Linked DNA regions of Homo sapiens. The protein of the gene in region 1 interacts with the protein of each later gene in a biochemical or structural test. Each region holds a gene or a part of one and is shown in the gene's direction. Other genes may lie near its edges. The genes, in order: LACRT and NID1.

Region 1 (4,258 bases):
TCACAAATTGACATCCAGCACCTTATTCTCCACCCTTCAGCCCCTCAACTGACTCCTGCTCCACGGCCCGTTCTATTAATATCTAGCATTTAGCACCAGCCTGGACAAAAACCTACTTGGAAAGATGGTACAAGAACCCCACACAACTCCATAGAACTTCGCTGTCTAAAAAAATGCTTTGCCGTATATTATCCCACTTAATCTCCACCACTATGCTGTACATAGGAGCCACAACTCCTAGACAACAAATAAAAATCCTATCACTTTTCAAATCCTAACATTTTCATATGACAAAGCCAGAACTCAAAATCCAGACCTCTAGAGTCCCAGATCAGGAAAGGAAGAAACGCCAAGTCAAAGAGAAGCTTCTTTAGAATAATCTGCTTTTCTGGATTATTCACACCATGGGTCAGCTCCCCACTTGAAGTCAGAACCAAGCTCCAATTTCAGTGAACCACCATCATGCTTTGACCAGGAGATTCTCTCAGAAATGTGGGGTCCCATTGAGTAGGCCTGAAGACAGAGATTGACAGGCCTATGTGAGCCTGGAGGAGTTCTTTTTAGGGGCTGGATAATGTCAAGAACAGAGAACAACTCCAGAGAAGGCACACACGCCTTCAAACCCATCCCCTCATGGGGAGAAAGCAGCCAGGAACTCAGGCCTCAAGTGTTCTAGGTGTGGTCTCCCAAGGAAACGGGCTCACTTAGTTTGGGGAAACCTTCAAACCCTGCACTGAGTCCTATGTAGACTGGGACAGAAGGTGGACAATGTAATCCCCTGAGCCCTCAACCTCCTCCTGGAGAGATGACAAGATTAAGATTTCTCTACCAGAACCCTCAACAGACACATCCCAGAATCTCCCCAAGTGAAATGTGCTCTACCTACCGTCCCTGAGAGCCCAGGGGTGTGAACCCAGAGGGCAGGTGTGGTGGGGAAGGGAGGAGGGAGAAAGAAAAGGGATGGCTGGGAGTTAGAGAAAGGCTCCTATCCAGGACCTGCCTGCAAGGATCCCAGGTATCAGCCAGCCCAACCTAGCCCTTGTTGACTTAGCAGGTGACAGTTTGGGGAAGAAGGGGAGGAGGATGCGGAAGTCACACCTCTCCAGGCTTGGTTCCCATTGGCCCTTGATATCCTTAAAAGGGCCCAGCAATTTCAGCATCCTTATTCCCCAGACCTTCTGCAGATTCTGTGGTTATACTCACTCCTCATCCCAAAGAATGAAATTTACCACTCTCCTCTTCTTGGCAGCTGTAGCAGGGGCCCTGGTCTATGCTGGTGAGTATGGCCTTTCCTCTGCGCCCCACAAGAGTCCTCCCAGTCCAAGGAGCCCCTCACTCCTGCCTTCACCCCTCTCCTCCTCTCTCAGTGCTATTCTGGTTTCCCTGCCTCTGCAAGTGACTCCTCTCCCAGTTCTCCACACGTGGCCTCTGCACCCCACTGGCCAGAGGAACCCAGAACTCTCTGGCCTCTGCCTGCCCTCCCAGCTCATCTCCTCACACACCATTGTTTACCCACTATGCCTCAGCTACACTGGCTTCTCTGGTGTCCCCTGCATGTAGTTGAGCAGGGTGTCCCCTACACGAGGGTGCCCAGGCAAGGAGTGGTAGAAGCTAAAATCTGGCCGACACTCTACTTGCCAAGCAGTGAGCCTGGCCCCTGGCTGTGTCTCTTAGGAGGAAGGGATGCCTTTTTTTTTTTTTTTTTTTTGAGACCGAGTCTCCCTCTGTTGCCCAGGCTGGAGTGCAGTGGCACGATCTCTGCTCACTGCAACATCCACCTCCTGGGTTCCAGCGATTATCTTGCCTCAGCCTCCTGGGTAGCTGGGACTACAGGCTCATGCCACCTTGCCCAGCTAATTTTGTATTTTTAGTAGAGACGGTGTTTCACCATGTTGGCCAGGTTGGTCTCGAACTCCTGACCTCAGGTGATCCGACTGCCTTGGCCTCCCAAAGTGTTGGAATTACAGGCGTGAGCCACCGTGCCCTGCTGGGATGCCTTTTTTGATCCACAGAAGCACTATTTGGGCCATGATGATCCTGCTGTTCCTTGAACATCAGGATCTTCCTTCTTGTCCTTTCCTCGTCTAGAATGCTTTCCCTCTCCCTGGCCCCTTCCCCCAACCAACTCTAATGTCACCTGGCCAATGATTTTTCATCTAGAAAATCTCAGTTTACATATAATTCCCCAAAAAGGCCTTCCATGCACATGCGGAACAAATCAGATCCATGTGCCCTTCTCGCACCAGGCTGCACGTTCCCTTCCAGCACTGTCACACCAGCCATTAAATAATTTCGTAAAAGGACAGATGTAAGCTCTGTCAGGGCAGGGGTCTTGTCTGCCCTCTTCAGCACTGCACCTCCATCTCTTGGCACAGAGCTTTGCATAAATGTTGTGTTGAAAGAATAAAGGGAATCAAGGCTGGGGTCTCAATCCTGCAAATCGCTCAAATATGGCCCCATAACCCCCACATACTGTCCTCCTCCACCACAGAGGAGGTTGAGCCCCTCTGACCATGGCCAGCTCCATGACAGACACCTCAGGGAAGCCTACCAAGCCAGGGGCCAGTCAGGAGGAAGGCACTGTTCCAAGAGACATTACACTTCTCAGAGGGGAAGTTATTTCAAAAGCCACAGGAGTTAAACATCAGAGAGTGCCCCAGTAGACCCGCTGATATGGTGGAAGGGCATGTCCAACCCAAAGGGAAATTGATCCCCTTCTATCCATGAGCATTCCCAGGAGATAAGCTTTGGGAATGGGAGGGGAGGGTGGCTCGAGTAGGTCCGGTTCGGTCCTTGCTCTCATCTGGCATGTTTCCCCCATTGCAGAAGATGCCTCCTCTGACTCGACGGGTGCTGATCCTGCCCAGGAAGCTGGGACCTGTGAGTCCTCCTCTCCCTGCTGCCCTAGCCCTCGTTGGGAAGGTTTAACAGTTAGGGATGTGAGTGGTGGCTGGGAGAAGAAGCCAGTGGGAGGAGATCTGGATTCTGTGCTTGGTGGTAATGGGGAGGGGCAGGTAATATAATAAAGAAGGTGGCATGGGTTGAAATGGTACAAGGCTAAGGACAAAAGAGGATGACCCAGAGAGGCAAGGACAATAGGGAGCATGGGGAAAAGGTTATTGTGAATAAAAGGGAGAGAAACATGAGGTTAAGTGGTAAGGGCAATGTCTCACATGGCATTAATACCTTCACCTGCAAACACCTCCCATTACTCCCAATTCCTTAGCAAGATAACCATTATCTGGCCTCTAACCTCATTTTCCAACCCCATTTTCCATGACTCTCTTTTATGTCGCACCCACATCAGCTAAATTGAACTTGTTTCCATTCCCCACACATGCCTTCGCCTGACCTCTTACTCACTGCCTGCCCCCAGGGAAGCCCCTTTGGTACATCCTCTCCTGCTAACATCCTGCCTTCAAGATCCAGCTTCTCTATGAAGTGCTCCCCGATTCTCACCATCCCCTAGTCCAAATCCTTCCCCAACCCTGCCCGCTGCATTCCAAGAGACACACAGCATGCAGAAATGCTATCTCCCTTAAGGGGGCAGCGTTTAAGCCATATCACTTCTGTATCCTGGCACCCAGCACACATTAGGTATCCTGGGGCCCTGCAACCCATTCCAAAAGAAACAAACACTTTCACTTTGCTAAAATCCATCAATTTGTGCATTCACAGCTAAGCCTAATGAAGAGATCTCAGGTCCAGCAGAACCAGCTTCACCCCCAGAGACAACCACAACAGCCCAGGAGACTTCGGCGGCAGCAGTTCAGGGGACAGCCAAGGTCACCTCAAGCAGGCAGGAACTAAACCCCCTGAGTAAGTCTCTGTCTCTATGCCAGATCAACAACCTAGAAAAGTCTCTGGCTGCAGGCCCACATCACACCTCCACGCACAGAGATAAGCCTGGTGAGAAGCAGGTAGACTCAAACAGCTGAACACAAAGGCACAAATGGGATTGTGCATTGCACCCACACACAACGTTTTCACAATAGTAGATGTTGCAGCCTGCACAATACATGGTTTCTGTCCTGGCTCACACAACTTCCTATGAGAGAAGTGCTGGAGCCCTCAGCAAAACTTCTGCACTTTAGGACTTTCTGTAGGGATGATGTCCTGGGTGGAGTGGGGGTGGGGGGCGGGTGCAGGTGGGGCAATGCAGAGTTCTCTTTAAATGAGGTGATTTTTCTGCTGATGTGATTGTTCTGCTCCAAAATTAGAATCCATAGTGGAGAAAAGTATCTTACTAACAGAACAA
Region 2 (4,412 bases), on another chromosome or scaffold:
TCCTTTGCTTTTTCTTCCTGTCTTTGCTGGTTCAGAACTCATGCCCCCTAAATTTTATACAGAATTTGCTGTTTTCTGAAAAATTATTATAAACTAGGTTCAAGGTCGTTACTTTTAGCTGCTGACAGGAAACGGGGACGTCCTGTTGACCGCTGATAGGTCTGACATCAAACATATCCAACTCCAGCTGTCCCAGATCCTCTTCCCTGACGTCAAAAGGCAGTACTGGTTTTCCAGTCCTCCAAGTGCAAACCCTTGAACTCAATTTTAACTTCGTTTCTTCTCCTCTTCAATGCCAATCTTATAATCAGGATTTGCTCCTTCTTTCATTTCAATGTTTTAGACTTGGTCCTCTAATAACTTACCTGTCTCTACTTTCACCCTAGTGCCAAAGTAACGATCAACCGATTATTCAGGATACCACTTAAATCGCTTATCTCCCTTTGTCAAGAACTTTCAATAGTTTCTTCTCCGAGTGACAGAGCGAATTCAAATTCCTAAATTTGTGATTCAAGGCTGTACTTCAACCGGTCCCTCCCCACATCCTCTGCTGGGGGATGGTGCCCTGAATAAACCCAGCTCGGTCCTCCACCTCCCTTCTCTGCCGCCTGATGACATCCCATTCCTTCCAGAGCACCCGGGTTGATTCCCGCCGTCCCACCTGCAGCTTTCCCCGCCAGTTTTTCCAGCCCTAATGTCTTTGATGACTTGGGGCCCCCATCTGACACTGGCTTGTGTTGTACACTGGTGACTTTGCCTCGGAGGGTGAGACCCCGTTTCCTGGCGAACCTCCACAATAGGGAGCACAGGATCAGGCACTCAAAAAACGCGCAATGAATGGGTGGATGAGCCCATGAACGTGTTGGTGGCTCTGTCCCTTGGCTGATTCCCAGCTCCCACCCCGTCTTCCTACCAGGGTCAAGCGAATTGGACCCCGGACGCGGCCGAGCGGCAATGGGGTGGGCGCCGTTCCTGAATCCGGAGCGTTTCCACGTCGCCGGCTCTCCACGACCCAACCCTAATCAGAGGACCACGGTGCGGGTCCCGCGCTCTGCTCCCCCTCCCGGAGGCGCCGTTCGCTGGGAGTCGGGCTGGTTTCGAGAATCGCAGGCACCGGCGCCCAAGGCGGGAGGTTCGGCTTCGCCCCTCGCCCTCCCCCTCGCGGCCATTGGGCTGCCCCGCGGCGCGCCCGCTGGACGGGGCGGGGCCCTCCGCTCTCCCCTCCGCTCCCCTCCCCTATTTCCCGGGGTGGGAACGCCGGGAGGCGGGAGGAGAGGGGGCTGCCAGGGGCGTCCGGTTACATCCCCGCCTTCCTCTGTCCTGGCCGCGGGACCGGGTTTGCGGGACCGCAGTTCGGGAACATGTTGGCCTCGAGCAGCCGGATCCGGGCTGCGTGGACGCGGGCGCTGCTGCTGCCGCTGCTGCTGGCGGGGCCTGTGGGCTGCCTGAGCCGCCAGGAGCTCTTTCCCTTCGGCCCCGGACAGGGGGACCTGGAGCTGGAGGACGGGGATGACTTCGTCTCTCCTGCCCTGGAGCTGAGTGGGGCGCTCCGCTTCTACGACAGATCCGACATCGACGCAGTCTACGTGAGTGAGCCCCGGGAGGGCGGGCGAGGGGCTGCAGGGCGCGGCGGGCCGGGGGCGCCCGTGGAGCCGGACGGACTTGGGCGTAGCAGGCGGGGACCCGGACCCGCTGGCCGCCGGGGCACCGGGCACGGCGCAGGGTCTCCCGCCTCTGCAGGGTCCGCGAAGGTCTTCCCGACCCGGTCCCTGCTATCCGAAGAGCGGGTCGCGGGGTCTGGGTGGCTCCGCGCGCCCCGGGCCGTGACCCCGGCACCCATGGACCCCGCGGAGCTTCCTCCCCGGCGGCTGTGGGCTGCATCGCCGCAGGGAGGTCAGTCCGCGTCCCTCGGCTGTCCAGTCCCTTCGGGGCTAGGACCTGGCCGGTCCCGGGTGGAGCCAGGTTCTCGCGCGGAGCCTCCGCAGGGCAAGAGCCGGAGCTGGATCGCAGTCTGCGCGCGGGCCCCGGGACTCTTGTGGCTGCGGGAGAGTTTCGCCGGCAGCCTCCTGTATTTGTGTGTGGACTCCGGATGTGTCTTGGCAGTGATGCTGCTTTCCAGTTGGGCTCGTTTCAGAGTCCAGAGTCCAGAGCGGGAAACACAGGGCTCCCAGTGATCCCATTTCCTGTGGCCAGGCATTGTCACCACGGAGGCCCCAAACGAGGAGCGGGACCAGATGACCTACAGCTCCCTGGATCCTCCCCGTGACTGGCCGGGCCTGGGGTCGCTGTCAACTTGTTGAAGTCCTTTCGTGCCGCTGCCTTCCTCGGCCGCCCACCATGTGGATTTCATATAAGGCTTGTGTGCATTCCAGAAGTGTGGGGGGTTGGCCGGGGGAAGGGGGTTGGAACTGCAAACGCAGCGGCTGCAGCCTGTCCTGCCCGTGAAATGGCTGTGCTCCCGGTCTGGCCTGGGAACACTGCGCCTTAGACAACACTCACGTGGAACTTGTAGGCTTTGCCTAAAACGAATGAGCCCTTCAAGTCTGGATCCACAAAGAGCCCTCCCCCATGTTGGTTGACTGCCCTGGCCCCTTTGCACACTGGTGAAGCCTGTGGATCCCTTTTCAGTATAACGCTTTTATTTTAGTTTTTAGAGAGACGAGGTCTTGCTCTGTTGCCCAGGCTGGGTGCAGCGGTGCGATCTTGGGTCACTGCAGCCTCCAACTCCTTGGCTCAAGCTGTCCTCTGGCCTCAGCCTCCTGAGTAGCTGGGACCACAGGCGAGTGTCACCATGCTGGGCAGTATAAAGTTTTAAATGCATAAAATAAAATCCACAAGATGACCAAGGAAGGCAATTATGTTGAAATACAGATCAAAATATTAAAAAAACACACATCTTATGCTCTTATGTACTATATATGCTTATATGCTTACTTTATTTATTTATTTATTTATTTATTTTTTTTTTTGAGACAGAGTCTCTCTCTATCCCCCAGCCTGGAGTTTAGTGGCACAATCTCAGCTCACTGCAACCTCCACCTCCTGGGTTCAAATGATTCTCCTGCCTCAGCCTCCTGAGTAGCTGGGATTACAGATGACTGCCACCACACTTGGCTAATTTTTGTATTTTAAGTAGAGACATGGTTTCACCATGTTGGCCAGGCTAGTCTTGAACTCCTGACCTCAGATGATCTGCCCACCTCAGCTTCCCAAAGTGCTGGGATTACAGGCATGAGCCACCATGCCTGGCCCAATATATGCTTACTTTTTTTTTTTTTTTTTTTTTTGAGATGAAGTCTCACTCTGTTGCACAAGCTGGAGTGCAGTGGCGAGATCTTGGCTCACTGTAACCTCCACCTCCCAGGTTCAAGCGATTTTCCTGCCTCAGCCTCCTGAGTAGGTGGGACTATAGGCACGCACCACCATGCCTGGCTAATTTTTGCATTTTTAGTATAGACGGGATTTCACCATGTTGACCAGGCTGGTCTTGAACTCCTGACCTCGTGATTCACCCACCTCCGCCTCCCAAAGTGCTGGGATTACAGGTGTGGGCCACCACGCCTGGCCTATATGCTTACTTTTAACAACATTAAATAACAAGGTGTAGCAGTGGATCCAAGGGCAGTTCAGGTAACGATTGAACTTTGAAGATCATGAGCAATATTCTGAGACACATGCAGCAACTATGATGTGATATGAAAATATCTGTGACTTCTATTAGTGACTGCTTTGTTGCCTGCATTCATAATTAAAGGAAATGCTAAATATCAGTTTTTGGTTATTCTTTTTTTTTTTTTTTTTTTTTTTGAGACAGAGTCTTGCTCTGTTGCCCAGGCTAGAGTACAGTGGCTCAATCTTAGCTCACCACAACCTCCGCCTCCCAGGTTCAAGAGATTCTCCTGCCTCAGCCTCCCGAGTAGCTGGGATTACAGGCGCGCACCACCATGCCTGGCTAATTTTGTATTTTTAGTAGAGGCGGGGTTTCTCCATGTTGGTCAGGCTGGTCTCTAACTCCTGACCTCAGGTGATCCGCCCGCCTTGGCCTCCCAAAGTGTTGGGATTACAGGCATGAGCCACCATGCCCGGCCATTAGAGATTTCTAAGTAGATGGCTGACACGATTTAACTTTAAAAGATTATCATTCTCTTCAACAAATAAATGGCATGGTGGGGAAAAAGAAGGAGGGAGACCTGGTGTGGATCAAAAGAGACTTCAGAGGCTTGCTGACCAAATGCAAGTGAGGACTTTGTTTCAGCCTGATTAAGACAAATCGGCCATAAAAAGGTGTCTTTGAGACAAACTGCATTTCGAGAAGAGGTATACATGCAAATGTGTAGATATAAGTTTCATTTCTCTTGGGTATATACCTAGGACTGGAATTCCTGGGTCATATGGTAACTCTATGTTTAATA

What was found.
Region 2: the proteins of LACRT (region 1) and NID1 form a complex in vitro, tested with the Homo sapiens proteins (one study listed by BioGRID).

The regions. Positions count from the first base shown.
Region 1 is NC_000012.12:54,631,802-54,636,059, reverse strand, and holds the start of LACRT (extracellular glycoprotein lacritin precursor), read left to right. Parts: upstream 1-1,164; 5' UTR 1,165-1,218; coding exon 1,219-1,276; intron 1,277-2,826; coding exon 2,827-2,880; intron 2,881-3,678; coding exon 3,679-3,819; intron 3,820-4,220; coding exon 4,221-4,258. UniProt on the Homo sapiens protein: Modulates secretion by lacrimal acinar cells.
Region 2 is NC_000001.11:236,062,029-236,066,440, reverse strand, and holds the start of NID1 (nidogen-1 precursor), read left to right. Parts: upstream 1-1,350; 5' UTR 1,351-1,361; coding exon 1,362-1,586; intron 1,587-4,412. UniProt on the Homo sapiens protein: Sulfated glycoprotein widely distributed in basement membranes and tightly associated with laminin. Also binds to collagen IV and perlecan. It probably has a role in cell-extracellular matrix interactions.